Regions from separate parts of the Homo sapiens genome. Here region 2 is linked to region 1. The links come from fine-mapping of genetic effects on gene expression. Tissue or cell type: tibial nerve. Region 1 holds a variant in brackets; the other region holds the start of a gene. All regions are shown on one strand. Distances are from middle to middle.

Region 1 (5,442 bases):
CAGTGGTGTGATCATGGCTCACTGTAGCCTCGAACTCCGGGGCTCAAGCCATCCTCCAGACTCAGCCTCCTGATTAGCTGGGACTACAGGCGTGTGCCACCACACCCTGCTAATATTTTGTAGAGACATATGAGTCTTGCTATGTTGCCCAGGCTGGTCTTGAACTCCTGCCTCTTGAACTCTTGGCCTCAAGTGATCCTTTGGCCTCAGCCTCCCAAATTGCTGGCATTACAAGCGTGAGCCACCGTGCCCAGCCCTCTTCTCAAATAGTTTTTTTTTCCCCTCCGTTTCTGAATTCATCCTTTATCTCAGAATATGTTTTCCGGATTACTCCCCCAAGACAAGCTTTTTTTCTTGTGACATCATCACAGAACGAAGATGGTGACAGCAGCAGGGCCACAAAACAGTCCCCAGTCTACCCAGTTGCTCATGGCTGTGGTTTGGACCTTCAGCCATGAGGCAGTACGTCTTCCCAGGGCAGGGTAGGGACCTTCACCGCGGGGCTGGGTCTCAGGAGCTGCCGGGCGCCCTTCTCCAGCCCGCCTTTGTGATAAGGGACAGAATCGGGGTCACTGGCAGGACACAGGTCCCCTTCCCTGTCGCCTCAGGCTGGTGGGATTCCTGCACCCGAGTGCTGCTGGGGCTGCAGGCGAGGCCTGGGCTACACAGGAAGCCCGGGCACCGCAGAGTGGCCGCTAGCTGGTGGCATTGTTCCTCCACGGATTCAGAGCTTACGAGCACGGGCGTTGAGCTGAGGCAAAATACGGAAACAGCCACTTCCATGCAAATAATCACCCTTCTGATAACAATAAGTCAAGTCTCAAGGGACTAAGAAAAACAAGCAGCTTTATTAAGATGCAGCTGACCGATCTGAAAGCCTGCCTGCTCCGCCACCTCCTGGGAGAGCCTGCAGGGCCCGAGCTCTGGGGACAAGAGCTGCTGCTCAGGCCCCAGAGGAAGGTCTAGGTGGGAAATGGGCCGCCAGGAGGTGGACACCAACACATAGGAGCACATCCCAAGACACCCATCACCCTGTGTGGTGGGTGCTGGAAAGAAACAGCCTAGTTATGAGAGAGACTTGCAACTGGGGGCACCCTAGCACCCCACGGAGGCATTTCCAGGTGGCCCCTCCAGCTTGGCTGTGTGGGCTTCCTTGGAGGACCCTCCCTCCAGGCGGCCAGCCAGAAGGGGCCATCTCCAGGCAGGCACCCCCTTCAGGAGAGCCCATGCCCAGTCACTGCCTGGGAAGCTTACTGCAGGGCTGGCCCCCACCTGCCACTGTCACCTCCTGACCTCCACCTGCTCTCCTGGGTCCTCAGGCCTCACACAGTCCTGTCCTTCTAACAGGTGACTGCAGGATGGAGCCCCAGGCATCTCGGCATCCTGATGCGGTCACTGCCAGGAGGGGAGTGGTCTCAGGGTGGGCCAGACCCCTGGACACCAGCGTGGTCTCCTTCCTGAGCTGCCGAGGGAGATTTGCCTGGCAAAGCCCACCTGGCCCCTCGGCCCTCAGCCGCCGAGTTTCCCTCCTGCAGTGGGAGGTTTCCCACGACTGGAGGGAAGCAGTGGCTATTCCAGTAGTAGCTGTTTCTCATGCACAGGTCTCTTCCCCAGAAAGAATTTGAGCTGCAGGACAGAGATCCTATCACATATATACCCAGAAGGTGATTCAAGGTGAATATTAAAGACTTGGATATCCATTAGGATGATGATGATTTTAAAAAACAAAAACAGAAAACAACACGTGTTGGTGAGGACATGGAGCCCCTGGAAGCCGTCTACACTGCTGGTGGGACTGTAAGATAGTGCAGCTTCTGTGGGGAACAGTGTCATGGGTCCTTGAAAAATTATACAGTTGTTAGGGAGAGTGAAGCAGGAGGACTGCTTGAAGCCAGGAGTTCAAGACCCGCCTGGGCGGGCCTAGGCACCTGTAGTCCCAGCTACTCAGGAGGCTGAGGCAGGAGGATCGCTTGAGCCCAGGAGTTCCAGGCTGCAGTGAGCTACGATCACACCACTCCACGCCAGCCTGAGTGACAGAGCAATATCTTGTCTCTAAAATCAATTAAAATTCTACATAGAACCGTATGTTCCAGGAATTCCACTTCTGGGAAAATACCCAAGAGAATTGAAAGCAGAGTCTCAAAGAGATATTTCTCCACCCATGTTCATAGCAGCATTACTCAAATAGCAAAAGGTGGAGGCGAGCCGAGCGTCCACCGATAAGTGAACGGATCAACAAAATGTGGTGTGTGTGTACCGTGGAGTATTATCCAGCCTTAAAGAGGAAGGGAATTCTGTTACATGCTACAACAGGGATGAACCCTGAGGTCCTTATGCTCCGTGAATTGAGCCGGTCACAAAGGACACATTTTGTACTGTACAATTCCACTTGCATGAGGCACCTCAAGTAGTCAGATTCAAGAAACAGACAGGAGAATGGGGATTGTTAGGGACTGGGGGAGAGGAATGGGGAGTTGGCGTCTAGTGGGGACAGAGGTTCCATTTTGCGTTCATCTGGAGGTGGACGCACAGCATCGGGAATACA[C/CTT]AATGCCACTGAATTGTGTACTTCAACATGGTCACAATGGCACATTCTTTATTTTTTGTAGAGACAGGGTGTCACTGTGTTGCCCAGGCTAGCCTCGAACTCGGGTTCAGGCTCTCCTTCCACCTCGGCCTCCCAAAGTGCTGGGATTATAGGTGTGAGCCACCACACCTGGCCAAATTTGTGGGTTTTTTGGTTTTTATGTTTTTGAAACAGAGTTTCTCCCTTGTCACCTAGGCTGGAGTACAGTGGCGCGATCTTGGCTCACTGCAACCTTTACCTCCTGGGTTCAAGCGATTCTCCTGCCTCAGCCTCCCAAGTAGCTGGGATTACAGGCACCTGCCAACACACCCAGCTAATTTTTTCTATTTTTAGTAGAGACGGGGTTTCACCATGTTGGCCAGGCTGGTCTCGAACTCCTGACCTCAGGTGATCCGCCCACCTCAGCCTCCCAAAGTGCTGGGATTACAGGAGTGAGGCGCTGCGCCCAGCCAAAATTTGTGTTTTTAAATGTATGTTTAACAATTTAAAAATCCTAGATCATCCACAGTTTGCAAAAGCCACTGCTATCCATCTTGGATTGACCAATTCCCTACCTGCCTCTAAAGCGGTGGTTTTTTAACAGGAGCAGTCTTGCCCCCTGGGGTGTTTGACAGTGCCTGGGACACTGGGTGGGGGTGCTTCTGGCATCTGGTGGGTGGAGGTGGGGTATGCTTTTCACCTCCTGCAATGCACGCTCGGAACCACAGGTCCGGAGCCATGGGGCTGCTGTGGCGAGGTCTTCCCACATGGCCGCACCCTGTCTGAAGGAGCTAGTGGTGGGGCCCCGAATATTCTGAGGCCAGGAGCTCCCAAGTCCCACCTGGCATGAAGCGGTGCCCCAGGGCCCTCTCCGCACTCCTCCCCCTGCCCAAGTGGGCCCAGACTCCCCAGTGAGGCCGCATGGCCTGGAGTGCTCGCCTGGAGCCTGAGGGGTCTGGCTGCTGTGAGGTGGGCTTCGAGGGTGGCTGCCAGGCTGTGCTGGAGAGGGCTGGGCATCAGAAGGCTGGTGACAGCCTTGCAGGGAGACGGAGGGTTACCGGAGCCATCCCTGGAGGTGGCCCCTCCAAGTGCTCGGGCCCCAGGCAAGTCCCACCGGCTCCCGAGTGGAAGGTGTAAGCCACGTGGGCACAGGTGGGAGGGAGTTCTCACCACCCATGGCTGCTAGTGCCCCTGAAACCACCTGGAAGTCCCAGCGGCTTCCCCAGGGACAGGCAGTGCTGTGGCCCGTGTCCACCCCAGCTCTGGGGCCTGTGCTCGTGGCTCCGTGTCTGCCCGTGGTCTCCCTCTCTCTCAGGGGTGGTTTCTCTGTCCCTACCCAATATGGTGCTCTATAGCTTTCCTTAGGATCCTAGCTCCTCAGGAGGAAGACGTGTGGCCCCTTGCTCCAGGAAGGCCCAGTCCTCCCTCACTGGGGGTGGGAGGGTAAGGCAAAAGTGCCAAAGTGTCCATCCCATGAATGCAAGACACACAGTGCCTGCTCTAGAAGAGCTCATGTTCCAGCAGGGACAGCTAACACCCAGGGGCCTGCACGGGGTGGAGGGCTCTTCAGAGGCAGGATCACCTCGGAGATGGGTGCAGGGGACCTCGGGCCACCCCAGGGCCAGGCCTGCTTGCCCTGCTTAGGAGCTGGGTCTCCCACTCAGGGAGGGAGGGGTCATGTCTCAAGGGCAGCCACTGGGCCTGAAAAGCAGAACCGCATGTGATCAGTCTGGGTGGGCAAGACTTCAAGAGAGCACGCCTACCCTCAAGGGATGGAAGCAGAGGCTGGTAGCCGACGTCCATGCCAGCCACCAACTCAGAGCCAGCACACTACCCGCATGTGCCTCTGCCAATGAGTGGATGAAAAGCAGCGACCTACAGATGCAGGCAACCTGGATGAGTCTTGACTTTATCTCACGGAGGGAAGGAAGCAGGCTCGGGAGGTGCCGTGCCGCGTGGCTCTGTTTATAAGCTGTCTGGGAAAAGGCAAAACCACAGTACAGAACACAGATCAGCCAGTGCAGGCAGGAAGGGCCAGCACACGGGGTGGGAGGAGCTTCCTGGGTAACGCTCAATCCCATACGCTACAGAGGGCGCATGTTATTGAACATTAAGGTTTTTTTAAAAAATTTTAATTTAATATAATTTAATTATTATTATACTGTTTTAGGGTACATGTGCACAACATGCAGGTTTGTTACATATGTATACATGTGCCATGTTGGTGTGCTGCACCTATTAACTCGTCATTTAGCATTAGGTATGTCTCCTAATGCTATCCCTCCCCCTCCCCCTACCCCACAACAGTCCCCGGAGTGTGATGTTCCCCTTCCTGTGTCCGTGTGTTCTCATTGTTCAATTCCCACCTATGAGTGAGAACATGCGGTGTTTGGTTTTTTGTCCTTGCGATAGTTTGCTGAGAATGATGGTTTCCAGTTTCATCCATGTCCCTATGAAGGACATGAGCTCTTCATTTTTTATGGCTGCATAGTATTCCATGGTGTATATGTGCCACATTTTCTTAATCCAGTCTATCGTTGTTGGACATTTGGGTTGGTTCCAAGTCTTTGCTATTGTGAATAGTGCTGCAATAAACATACGTGTGCATGTGTCTTTATAGCAGCATGATTTATAATCCTTTGGGTATATACCCAGTAATGGGGTGGCTGAGTTCTACTCTTATAAAGAGCGTGCTGGCCTTTCCCATGCCTTCTCGTCTGTTTTGACCCATTCTGGGTATCGGTCCTTTTCGTCTCCCCCTCTCCATCCTCTCTCAGCCCCTTTCACTGGGTTTCAGTGTGCTGGGCACAGGTTCAGGGTGTGTTGTTACTCTTAATTTTTTTTTTTTTTTTTTTGAGACAGGGTCTCCCTCTGCCCCC
Region 2 (5,000 bases), 80 kb after region 1:
ATAGTAGTAACCTTTCACTGAGTGCCCCATTTGTGCCACCTCCCCCACAGGAGGTTGGTACTAGCATTGTCTTTGAGGCACACAGTGGTGAAGTAACTTGTCTGCAGCCACACACTAACCCATAAGTGGTGGAAGCAGCAAAAACTGGCTGGAGAGACCAGAGGCTTAACTACTATACAGCACGCGATTATAAACTACATTTGTCTGCTGAGTAGGCTCTAGCCGCCCCAAAAACTCTGAACAACGCACAGACCGCGTCGTCATTAGGCTCTTTTACATCCCAGCACCAGGCACACAGCAGGTCCTACCTGCTTCCCCGACAGAGCAGTGAGCCTGCTATTCTCTGCTCCCTCCTGACCCCACATGCTTTCCAAATTCACCTCTCACAACTGAGTGCCACCTGCAGGCAATGCCACCCCCACCCACAAACACCACCTTTCCACAGTCCCCATCCCAGCCACAGCAGAGCATCCCAGCCCCCACCATTGTAAAATCCTGGAACCCCACTTGCTGTCTGCTCCCGCCACTCCAGTCACTTGTGCCCAGGGTCTGGGGAGTCCCAGTCTGATGGCTGGACCCGCCCCTCCTTCTCCACGCAGCAGTCACCTAGGAGGCTCCAGAGCCAGTAGCCAGTTCTATTCCAGTGCAAGGAGCCCTCCTGTAGGGCTCTTACACTCTGCAGCCTAACTCTATCTAGCCCCCTCCCCAGTCTCTCTGCAAACGGAGGCCCACTCACGACCTCCAGGAAACTCTCTGCTTCACCCCACACACAAACGCCACCGGCTCACTGGGAGCACAAGGCCTGCACACACCTTCATCCCACATCTCCTATCTGCTGGCCATCCCCCCTCAGGGTGAGTTCCTCCAGGTACCTCCCAGGGTGGCCTGCAGCACTAGAACCTGCCAGGGCCACTGGCCCTACCTCCACCACCCAAACACTCTGGAATCCCTCAGGTCTGACCCCCCTCTGGGGGGGGGGTCTTCACCTGAAAGCCCAGCCCATGACCCTGGCTTCCCACCTTACTGCAGGATTATACTAAGGCCTGGACGTGAGTCGAGTCCAGTCCAGTCCCTCACTGAGCTCTAAAAAAGCAGTGACCCCGATCCAGGGCCCAGCTCCCACCACCAGCCAAGGTTAGGTATCCAGGTTGCCCACAATGACCACACCCCATGCCCGGGAGCCACAGTGTGCTACCCAGATCTCTGCCTTCCCTTCTTCCCAGTCCCCTACCCTGCCCACTCACCTGCGCACCTGTGTCCCCTGCAGTCTGGGAGAAGGCTTCCCTGCACCAGCCAGCCAGGCCTGCTTTGGGCCTGAGCCTTCCTAACCCTGGGCCGCACTCTCACCATTTTGAGAACCTTAGCCCTCCCACGCCTATCAGTCTGTTGGTCCCCCTACTTTTCTCCCCACACTGCCTGGCATAGAAGACTTTCGGCCCTTCTAGACTGGACAGCACTATCCTAAAGGGGCAGGTACCACGGCGCATGTGTGTTTGCCCCCACAAGGCCAAAGGCAGCACCTGGAACGCTGGAGCCGTTCTCTGCTCTGGGGAGACCCAGGAGCCCCAAGAACAAAACCTGCCCAAAGCCTTAAAGCAAGCTGAGTGCAGACGACTGCACCGCCCGCCCCCCAGCAACCGCCATGCAGGAAATACGAGCTCACAAGGCCCACGGCAACAAGAAGCCCACCCACCTGAGGCTACGCGAATCGCCCGCGAAGAGGGTCCTGGGATCCGTAGCCACAGACCGTGGGACGGGCCTCCCTCTGAGGGCGAGAGTCCAGGCGCCACCTAGAAAGTGGAGAACGAGATCGGCCGCCGTGAGGCCAGGCAAGGAGCGGGCGCGGCTTCCCGAGACTGCGAGAACGGCCCAAATGTCTCCAGGTGCCCCCACAAACCCCCGGCGCGGACCGAGAAACTGAGGCCCGCAGACCGAAGGCACTGCGACCCAGGCTGGGGCTCCGAGTGCCCCTCTGCGGATCAGAAGTCGGGAAAAGACGCAGGGGCGCAGCTCCAGGCCCGCGTGCACGGAGTTCAAGCCGGCCGCCCGGGCTCCCGCCTCCACACTGACCCTCTTGCCGGAGTCGGGAACGCCTGCTCCTAGGAGCGCCGCGCAGCGTCCAGAGACCGATTACATCGCGCAGCCACGCCCCCAGCGTGCGCGCGGCCGCCGTGTACGACCCGGCGCATGCTCCCGGCACGCTCCACGCGCTCCTCCCATCCAGGCCGCGCCTGCGCTGTATGCCGTGTGGCCGCTACCTCGCAGGCTCTCCCGGTCCCTGCTGGCGCGGCAGTGCCGCGCGGTGGGTGATGGGAGAGCGCGCCCATTCCCACGCCGCGCCAAGTGCCACGGGATCAGGTGGGGCCGCGTGTACAGGCGCGAGACGGTCGGGCCAAAGCTGCCCCTCATGATCCCCAGCGGACGGTGCCCGGCGGTCCCTCAGATCCGGGAAATCTGCACCCGGCTGTGGCGTAGACCGAGGGGCCGATGCTGCTTCAGCCCGCCGTTACTGCCCTGGCGTCAGCCAGACACTGGGGTGCTGCTGGGCGTCGAGAGGGCTGCTGCGGGGCCGGGCTAAGCCTGGGGGGCTGCAGGTGTCGGGGTGGATGTGGGCATAGCGGGGCTGCTGGGCCTCGTGAGCGCCCTGGAACGGCGTGCCCGCGGAGTGCCTCTCATCACTCATTGCCAGTGCGGGGAACCTTGTTAGGGCCCGGTTCGACGTAGCTGCAGGCTGGGCGCCAGAGGCAGGGGGCAGGCAGTCCGAGAGGACCCTCTACCTGCATACCTGGGGGCTGCAGGCAGGGCCTCTGGGCCTCCTTGTTGTGGATATAATTGTGTGCTTCCCGACTCAGGCCGAGGCTGGACCCGGAGACGACAGCGAGGGCAGGCTACCAAGCCCTCCCCACAGGGCCGTGCCCAGCCCAAGCCTGCCGAGTCAGCACCCAGATCCTGGGACAAGATAGGTGAGGATGAAGTGGTGGTGCTCTTCTCACTTGCACAAGCCGTCCCACGCCACCTCTCCTCGGCTTCACGGTGCCTAGAGAAGAGGTGGGAGAGGGTGCAGGCGCCCCAGCTCAGGATCTGATGCCTGTGGGCCAAGGACCTGGATGCAAGCCAGGAGTCCTTGGGGCCACGGGCAGGCAGCCGGATTCACCGGAAAGTGACGCTTCTCAAGGGGAACACACACGTAACACACCAGCTCCCTTTCTGCCCTGGTCCAGTGACTCCTTTCATGAAAGCTCTCTGAAATGTTATCTGCATTTACACCCAAACTCACTCACTTTGATCCCTGAAACGCGAATCAAAGGTCACATTGTACCTTCCCTGGGTCTGTGGGGCTTTCAGCAGCCTGGGCCAAAAATAATAAAAGTGGCACCGAGCCAGGAAACGCCTCCTTGAAGTGGGAATGAAATTTGGATTTTTTTCGGTTGTATCTTTCCTAATTGACCTGATAATTTAAACTTCCTCCCTCAAGGGAAAGGTGGGGGTTCCCACAAATTCAGCTTACCTCAGCCTCAAGGCAGCTCAGTCTACAGCTCAGCGCCCATCAGCAGAGTGGGCAGTGGGCCTGTGGAAGAAATGAATCCAACTGAGCCAGAAAAGGCCTTTTTTGGTCCAAATTTTTTTTTTCTTTCAGGCCCTCTCCTGTGTATAACTGTCATGCACCGCATAACAACGTTTTGGTCAACTAGGGACCACATATGTAACTGGTCATCCAGTAAGCTATAGTTATTTTATTATTGAAGAAAGAAAATTTTTAGGCCAGGCGCTGTGGAGGCTCATGCTTGTAATCCCAGCATTTTGGGAGCCCAAGGCGGGCAGCTCATTTGAGGTCAGGAGTTTGAGACCAGCCTGGTCAACATGGTGAAACCCTGTCTCTACCAAAAATACAAAAAATTAGCCGGGCGTGGTGGTATGTGCCTGTAATCCCAGCTACTTGGGAGGCTGAGGCAGGAGAATCGCTTGAACCCAGGAGGCGGAGGTTGCAGTGAGCTGAGATTGTGCTACTGCACTCCAGCCTGGGCAATAGAGTGAGACTCCATCTCAAAAAAAAAGGAAAATGTTTAATATAAGTGTGTTGCAGCCTAAGTGTACAGTGTTTATAAAGTCTAAAGTAGTGTACAATAATGTCTTAGGCCTTCACATTCACTCACCACTCACACCCACAGCAACTTCCAGTCCTGCACCTCTGTTCATGGCAAGTGCCCTAACCAGTTCTATTTTTTATTTTTTGCACTGTACTTTTACTGTACCTTTGCTATGATTAGGTGCACTAATACCACTGTGTCACAATTGCCTACATTGTTCAGTAGAGTCACTGTGCAAGTTTGTAGCCCAGGAGCAACAGGCCTTACCATACAGCCTAGGTGTGTAGTAGGCTCTACCATCTTAGTTTGTGTAAGTTACTCTATGAGGATCCCTCCATGACAAAATCGCCTAGTGACACATTTCTCAGAGTGTATCCCCACAGTTAAGTGACATATGACTGTTTTTTTATTGTGGTAAAATATAGTAACATTTACCATTTTAGCCATTTTTAGGTATACAGTTCAGGAGCATTAAGTACATTCATGCTGTTGTATATCCAGTGATCACTATTTATTTCTAGAACTTTTTCTTCACTCCAGAACATTAACTCCTCTTCCCCTCCCACTCGCAACCCCTGGTAACCATCATTCTATATTCTGTCTCTGTGAATTTAATTACTCTAGGTACCTCATATAAGTGGAATCATACAGTATTTATCATTTTGTGACTGGATTATTTCACTCAACATGTTTTCAAGGTTCATCCACATCGTAGCATGTGTCAGAACTTCCTTCATTTTTAAGGCTGTGTAATATTCCTTTGTACACATTGACCAGATTTTGTTTATTCATTTGTTGATTGACACTTGGGTTGTTTTCACCTTTTGGCTATTGTGAATAATGCTGCTATGAACATTAGTGTACAAGTATATGTTTGAGTCCCTGCTTTCAGTACATAAGAGTGAAATTGCT

Evidence for each region. PIP is the estimated chance that this variant, and not a neighbour inherited with it, causes the effect.
Region 2: it holds the start of GNB1L, and the variant in region 1 is fine-mapped to the expression of GNB1L in tibial nerve (GTEx, PIP above 0.99).

The regions. Positions count from the first base shown.
Region 1 is chr22:19,772,360-19,777,801 of GRCh38, forward strand. It overlaps a transcript of TBX1 not described here. Among named protein-coding and RNA genes, the nearest start is that of TBX1, 14 kb to the left of the region's middle. RefSeq lists a silencer at 4,180-4,681. The variant C/CTT (reference allele first, on the strand shown) is at 2,546.
Region 2 is chr22:19,852,750-19,857,749 of GRCh38, forward strand. GNB1L (G protein subunit beta 1 like) reads right to left here and starts at 2,125. Exons shown (of 8, transcript NM_053004.3): 1 at 2,071-2,125; 2 at 1,694-1,790. It overlaps RTL10 (retrotransposon Gag like 10), which reads right to left and starts at 2,125. Exons shown (of 3, transcript NM_024627.6): 1 at 1,911-2,125; 2 at 1,694-1,790. LOC124905080 (a long non-coding RNA gene) reads left to right here and starts at 2,223. Exons shown (of 2, transcript XR_007068005.1): 1 at 2,223-2,963. RefSeq lists enhancers at 615-1,233, 2,656-3,135.